Linked DNA regions of Homo sapiens. The protein of the gene in region 2 purifies or fractionates together with the protein of the main gene of each other region. This does not show direct contact. Each region holds a gene or a part of one and is shown on either strand. Other genes may lie near its edges. The genes, in order: GTPBP1 and RAB17.

What was found.
Region 1: the proteins of RAB17 (region 2) and GTPBP1 purify together in Homo sapiens (affinity purification with mass spectrometry; 3 studies listed by BioGRID and IntAct, with this or other methods). This does not show direct contact.

What each region holds. Positions count from the first base shown.
Region 1 is NC_000022.11:38,719,170-38,722,984, reverse strand, and holds part of GTPBP1 (GTP-binding protein 1), read right to left. Parts: intron 1,244-3,815; coding exon 1,120-1,243; intron 442-1,119; exon of another isoform or gene 1-441. UniProt on the Homo sapiens protein: Promotes degradation of target mRNA species. Plays a role in the regulation of circadian mRNA stability. Binds GTP and has GTPase activity.
Region 2 is NC_000002.12:237,577,148-237,580,916, forward strand, and holds part of RAB17 (ras-related protein Rab-17), read right to left. Parts: intron 1,009-3,769; coding exon 857-1,008; intron 236-856; coding exon 110-235; coding exon of another isoform or gene 1-109. UniProt on the Homo sapiens protein: The small GTPases Rab are key regulators of intracellular membrane trafficking, from the formation of transport vesicles to their fusion with membranes.

The DNA.
Region 1 (3,815 bases), on a different chromosome or scaffold from region 2:
AGAAGGTTCTGGTCTTGCACTAAGAGGTCTCTTCATAACTGACCCCAATGGAGTCATCAAGCACTTGAGCGTCAATGACCTCCCAGTGGGCCGAAGCGTGGAAGAAACCCTCCACTTGGTGAAGGCGTTCCAGTATGTAGAAACCCATGGAGAAGTCTGCCCAGCAAACTGGACACTGGATTCTCCTACAATCAAGCCAAATCCAGCTGCTTCCAAAGAGTACTTTCAGAAGGTAAATCAGTAGATCACCCATGTGTATCTGCACCTTCTCACCCCAGAGAAGAAACACAGTTGAAGCCTGCTTTTATCATTTTATAGATGATTATCTGTAGAAGGCAAGGAACCAATTATGCTTGTACTCATAAATATTACTCTAAATGGCTAAGGCCTTTTAAACATGGTTAGTTGCTAGTATAAGGAATCCTTTATTGGTAACATCTTGGTGGCTAGCTAGTTTCTACAGAATATAATTCGCCTCTGTAGAAGGCAATTCTTAGATCACATCTTCAGTAGAAACACTCTTCTGTCTTAGCCTTACTTGAAGCTTGCCTACAACAAAGTGGAGCAACACACATTGAAAGCTTCTGATCAAGGGTCCTGAAATTTTCATCTTGAATGTCTTTGTATTAAGCTGAATTTTCTTTTAAGCTAACAAAGATCACAGCTTTCAATTGTTATCAGCAGTCAAATTTAACTCCTGCAATGAATGTTTATGTGATTGAAGCAAATGTGAATATTATTTTAAAAAGTGGCAGAGTGACTTAACTGATCATGCATGATCCCTCATGCTTGAAATTTATAGTTTACCTAGTCATTTTACTTATTTTATTCATTAGCTAACTTTGTCTACATATATTTCTAGATACTGACCAGTGTAACGGATTATAAAGGATAGTTATTGGATCCAGGGATTGCATTTTGAAATTATTATAATTATTTTCTTTGCTGAAGTGTTCAATGTAGAGCACATAATAAAAATAAACATATTGTAAAATAAAAAAATAAAAATAAAAAAGAAAAGAAGTTTCTGGGCTAAAGCCGTGGTAGCAGACCACCTGAAGGCACAGCAGGTGACAGCCCCAATCAGAGGGGCTGCTGCTAGCTGGAGGCTTCACTTACCTTGCAGGATGTTGGCAGGACACATGTCAATCTTGGTGACTACCACAAAGACAGGTACATTGAGTGCCAGTGCCAAGCCCAGGTGTTCTTTGGTCATCCCCACGATGCCAGCATTGCTGCCCACCTGCCCCAACACAGAAAGGAAGTGTCAGGACGAGAGAGAAAGAGATTGCTGCTGGGTGGACACAGGGGCTCAAAAGCAGATGTGGATGAAAGCTGGGCTGGGCAAAAATCACGTTAACCCCTGACTCGATGATGTGGGGCGTCAAAATCGGAGGAGACTTGCAAACAATAAAAAAGATAAACCCAGTCAGGGAAACAACTGTCCTGAGCCATCAAAATGAATCCAAGTCAGGAGCAGTGGCTCATGCCTGTAACCCCAGCACTTTGGGAGGCCAAGGAAGGCAGATCACTTGAGGCCAGGAGTTTGAGACCAGGCAGGACAACCTGGTAAGACCTCCGTCTCTACAAAAAAATACAAAAATTAAGGCTGGGCACGGTGGCTCACTCCTGTAACCCCAGCACTTTGCGAGGTCAAGGCAGGCGGATCACCTGAGGTCGGGAGTTCGCGACCAGCCTGAACAACATGGAGAAACCCTGTCTCTACTAAAATACAAAATTAGCCAGGCGTGGTGGCACATGCCTGTAATCCCAGCTACTCAGGAGGCTGAGGCAGGAAAATCGCTTGAATCTGGGAGGTGGAGGTTGTGGTGAGCCGAGATCGTGCCATTGCACTCCAGCCTGGGCAACAAGAGCGAAACTCTGTTTCCCCCACCCTACAAAAAAAAGAAAAATTGACTGGGTGTGGCAGGATACGCTGTAGTCTCAGCTACTTGGGAGGCTGAGGTGGGAGGATCACTTGAGCCTGGGAGGTTGTGGCTGCAGTGAGCCATGATCGAGCTACTGCACTCTAGCCTGGGTGACAGAGCGAGACTGTGTCTCATAAACAACAACAACAAAAAGTGGATTCAACTTAACATCACTGGCCCTCAGTTTCCCCATCTGTAAAATGGGGAGATAACAATATCCACTTCAGAGGGTCACTTGATGTTTAAATGTCACAACACACATGAAGTGTCCAGCACACAACTAGCAGGAACTAGGTGTTTAAGCAATTGCACCTGTTATTACTATTACTATCCTTCCAGTAACAATAAATGTTTCCAAATATCACCGTAAGGACTGGTTACATAAATCAGGGCACGTGTATGAAATGTGCTGTACAAAAGAAGAAATTTTTATCTACTGATATGGACTAATCTCCAAAATATGCTTTTAAGGGGAAAAAAAAAGTAAGTTGCATATAGAATGCTATCATAAAAAGAGGTGAGTGTTCAGCTATGCATGGTGGCTCATGCCCATAATCCCAGCACTTTGGGAGGCCAAGGTGGGTGAATCACCTGAGGTCAGGAATTCGAGACCAGCTTGGCCAACATGGTGAAAACCCCTTCTCTACTAAAAATACAAAAAAAAAAAAAATTAGCTGCATGTGGTGGCAGTTGCCTGTAATCCCAGCTACTCAGGAGGCTGAGGCAGGAGAATCGCTTGAACCAAGGAGGCGGAGGTTGCAGTGAGCCAAGATTGCGCCATTGCACTCCAGCCTGGGCAAGAGTGAGACTCCATCTCAAAGAAAATAAAGGCCAGGCGCGGTGGCTCACACCTGTAATCCCAGCACTTTGGGAGGCCGAGGCGGGCAGATCATGAGGTCAGGAGCTCGAGACCATCCTGGCTAACATGGTGAAACCCTGTCTCTACTAAAAATACAAAAAATTAGCTGGGCATCGTGGCGGGCGCCTGTAGTCCCAGCTACTTGGGAGGCTGAGGCAGAAGAATGGCATGAACCCGGGAGGCAGAGCTTGCAGTGAGCTGAGATCGCGCCACTGCACTCCAGCCTGGGCGACAGAGCGAGACTCCGTCTCAAAAAAAAAAAAAAAAAGAAAGAAAGAAAATAAAAGGCAGTGGGGGATAACTGGTGACTGATTCATGGCTTAAAAAAAGCAGCTGAAAGATATTTGGGAAACATCTGAAATAATATAAATACAGACTAAATATTTGAGGATATTAGGTAACTATTCTTCATTTTCTTGATTGTAAAAACAGTAGGAGACAGGCCTCACTTTTAGGAGCTGTATGCTGAAGTGTTTAGCAGTGAAAAGTCACAATGTCTACATTGTGACTTTGTCTGGGATGAAGACATGTCCACTATTTTTAAGTGATTCAGCCACAAAAAAAAAAAACCAAACTAAACATATATACTTGGCTGGGCACGGTGGCTCACACCTGTAATCCCAGCACCTTGGGAGGCACCAAGGTGGGATGATTACTTCAAGCCAAGAGTTTTGAGACCAGCCTTGGCAACATAGCAAGATCTCGTCTCTAAAAAAATTAGTATTAGCCAGGCATGGTTGTGCACGCCTGTGGTCCTAGGTACTTGGGAGGCTGAGATGGGAGGATCCCTTGAGCCCAGGAGTTTGAGGTTATAGTGAACTACAGTCGCACCACCGCACTCTAGCCTGGGTAACAGAGTGAGGCTTTGTCTCTTTAAAAAATATTAAATCAGGCTGGGTACGGTGGCTCACGCCTATAATCTCAGCACTTTGGGAGGCCAAGGTGGGCAGATTGCTGGAGGTCAGGAGTTCCAGACCAGCCTAGCCAACATAGTGAAACCTCGTCTCTACTAAAAATACTAAAAATTA
Region 2 (3,769 bases):
TGCGTGTGTGGGTGTGCGTGTATGAAAGTGTGAGTGCCAAGGTCTTGACACAGGCGGGCAGGGCTCTCTCCTGCTGTGGAAGAGCAGAGCAGGGTCTCCTGGGCGGTACCTGGAAGGTCACCTCCCGCTCCTGGCTGAGGTCCGTCTTGTTGCCCACCAGCATCACCAGGACTTCTCCTGGGTGCAGCTCCTCCTCCAGGTCCTTCAGCCACTGCTGAGCCTTGAGGAAGGAATCCTAGAAAAGAAGAAAAAAAGTAACATCAAACAAAACTTATAGGTGGTCATTAGCTATTCCGGGAGGGGGAAGCCAGTGTTGCTGATCACGTTGTGTAAAATGTCACAGAATCCAACTGGCCATGGGCGCACCTGCAGGGCTGCTCCGTTCCTCTGAGGAGGGCACGTTCCTGTCCTGGGTGACCTGTGCGGCCAGGCAGAAAACTGCTAGGACACACATCAGATCCTTCACCCTGACCAGGCCCAGGAGACTGCCAGCCACGGGGTATTTCAGGTCAGGCCTCGAGCTCCTGAATCTCCCACGCCTAGCTGTCCTCAAAGGACCACTTTGTGCAAGAGAGTCTGGGGGACTGGCCACCACCCCAAACCCTGACCCTAATGCAGCACCAGGAACTACTGAGTGGCAGATGGCAACGGCATGTTCTTTGTGGACCACGGAGGAGCAGAACCCCACTGTGGAGGAGGATGGGGGGTTGTCAGGAGGCCATCCTGGAGGAGGTGACTGTTGCTCACTAATGGAGTCTCTGTTCCTTGTGATTACGCCATGGCATCATTGCACTGGAGAAACCAGAAGGCAGGTGCTTGGGAAGGAGGGTGGGACGTGCCTCAAGGCGGGCCCTACCTTCCTGGTGATGTCGTACACCAGAAGCGCAGCGTTGGCACCCCTGAAGTAGAGGTGGCAGACGCTGTGGTACTTCTCCTGGCCAGCTGTGTCCCAGATCTCAAGCTTCAGAGAGGTGGCACCCACATCCACCACCTTTGTGAAGAACGCACCTGAAACAGGGAGGCCCAGAGGGCTTACTCAGAGGACGAGGTTGCCACATGCGGCTCAGGTGGGACCACGGCAAGCCGCAGGCACAGCAATGGGCTCAGAGGGACAGCTGGCCATGCATCTCCCACGCCCGCATGGCCAGGAGGTTGAGCAAACAGTTCTTCTGGGAGATGGAGCCTTCCACATCGAGCAAAGTGTTGGGAGTGATTGCTATGGGGCCTTTGGAGAGGCTTTGGATGGGAAGATAAATCTCTCCAGGACCTAATACAAAAGCTCTGGGCTACATATGCCGTGAAAGGGATCTCCACTTACTGGGAGTCCGATGCATCCCTGCCAGCTTCCAGCGATGCAGCTGGGCTCTGGGAACCCCTAGAGCCCTGGGCACCCCCGGCCTACCGGCCCCTCGCCTGCCAGACCCATCTTGCACAGAGGCAGTCACGATTGCATAGGCTCCTCCAAGGCCTTCCTCGCCTCCTGCTAACCTCCCCACTTTCCCAATGCTGCTCCCCACCAACACCCTTCTCTACTGTCCCCTCTGCATGGTATCCTTCCTCTTGTTCACCTAGAAAACTCTTAGGCATCCTCTGAGATCTTCCAGCGGCAACCCCGGAAGGGCTGCTGGGCCCCCTGCCTCCACGGAAGCCTCCCTGCACCCCATACACACCCAGAGGCAAGGCCTCCTGCGTTCTCCACCTGTCTCCCCCAGGAAGGCAGGGGCTTTGTCTTACTCAGCCATGTACCTGCTTAACACACACACACACACACACACACACACACACACACACACAACTACTCCCAAGCACTTTAACATATTGGGCAATGCACTGTTCATTTAAAGATTTTCTACCCTTTGCTTTCCAAAGTTATATGATTTTAAAATGGTTATTTTATAGATCTCCAAAATGTTTTGCCCCATTGTGTGTGGCTTGTCAGGAATGTGTTATACACAGAACTGGAGAGGACGGGGCGGGGGAAGGCAAGGTGTCTGGGGCATGGAGGAGCCACCAGCACCGACAGGCTCCTGTCAAAGCTGCTACCCTGCCTAGACCCTGGATTGGGTTTGGGGTCTGTTGGGGAGATTCTGGCAAATGGAGCCACATGTTTAAAATAAAAACTTACACTCCAAGGACAGTGCATGAGTGTCCTGCGGCTGCCAAAACAAAGTCCCATGAGCCGAGTGGCTCAAATTAGCAAATTTCTTCCTGCAGTTCTGGAGGCCAGAGGTCCAAAACTGATGCGTTGGCTGGGTTGGTTCCTTCCGGAGACTGAAGGAGAATCCATTCCAGGCCTCCTCCAGCTTCAGGGGCTGCCGGCAACCCTGGTGTTCCTGGTGGCTGCATCACCCCCATCTCTGGCTCTGTCTTCACGTGGCTGCCCCTCTGTGGCTGTGTCCTCTCCCCTTCTTATAAGGATGTCAGTCACTGGACTTAAGGGCTATCCTAAGTTCCATCTTGTTGGCCTTAATTAATTACATCTGCAAAGACCCTCTCTCCAAATAAGGTCGCACTCACAGGTTCCGGGGGTTAGGACTTAATCGCCTCTTTACGGGTGGGAGAAACTCAATTGCACCCACTAGACAGAGAACAGGAGGCTGGACAGAGAACAGGAGGCTGGACAGAGCTTTCCAGCATGGTGCAGCAAGACCGTGCTTCTCTATCATGAGACAACCTCTTCCTAAACGGAAACCACTGCCTGGGCTCTTCTGCCCGCATGTCCTGCAGTTCCCTGCAGGTCCAGGAACTTGAAGTCAGACCAACTCCCCAGGTCAAACAAAGCTGCAGTCTCCATCCAGACAGTAGGACCAGTGATTTCCAGCTTAGATGGGGCAACTGTCGGGACTGAACCGGCTATAAACCTCTGAACACACCAGATGCTCCACTGGATTGACAATGGTGCCAGAATGAAGACCGTGCCCAGAATATAAATGTACACCCATCAGCTGATCTGATGGCAGCTTGCTTAAACTTTCTAAGTCTCAGCTTCCTCATCCATAGCAGGAGCTAATGGTGCCCTTCACCCAGGGTGGCTGTTAAATCGCCTGAGCAAGGAGAGAAAGGGCATATGAATTTTGCTTCTTCTTTCTGTCCTCTTTGCTCTTTGTGGACTTGTTGTCTTAAAACGTGGGCCTTTTATCCACATCTTTCTGTTTCCCATCACTTCAAATCACATTTCTCAGTTTGAATTTGGTTTTATCTTAAAAGCTGGCGCAGGGTGAAACGTGAGCATAAAATTCAGGTTTTCTTCCTCCATTTACCAATCTTAGCCTCTCATATTTTCCTTTTCCATGTTGAAAATGATGGCTGGAGGCTGGGCACAGTGGCTCATGCCTGTAATCCCAGCACTTTGGGAGGCCGAGGTGGGTAGATCACTTGAGGTCGAGTTCAAGACCAGCCTGACCAACATGGTGAAACCCTGTTTCTACTAAAAATACAAAAATTAGCCAGGTGTGCTGGCATGCCCCTGTAGTCCCAGCTACTCGGGAGGCCGAAGCAGGAGAATCGCTTGAACCCAGGAGGTGGAGGTTGCAGCGAGCCAAGATTGTGCCACTGCACTCCAGCCTGGGCAGCAGGAGACAGAGTGAGACTCTGCCTCAAAAAAAGAAGGGGGGGGAGGAGGGGAGGGAAAATGATGGCTGGTGGTTGAATTTACACTAATGTAAAATTCCAGCAAATTTCCAAGGAGGGCATGGGTTTTAGTCCAAGCAATGATAATGCATAATAATAGTCAATGTTTGGCTATTTACAGAACATAGACCCTTCCCTT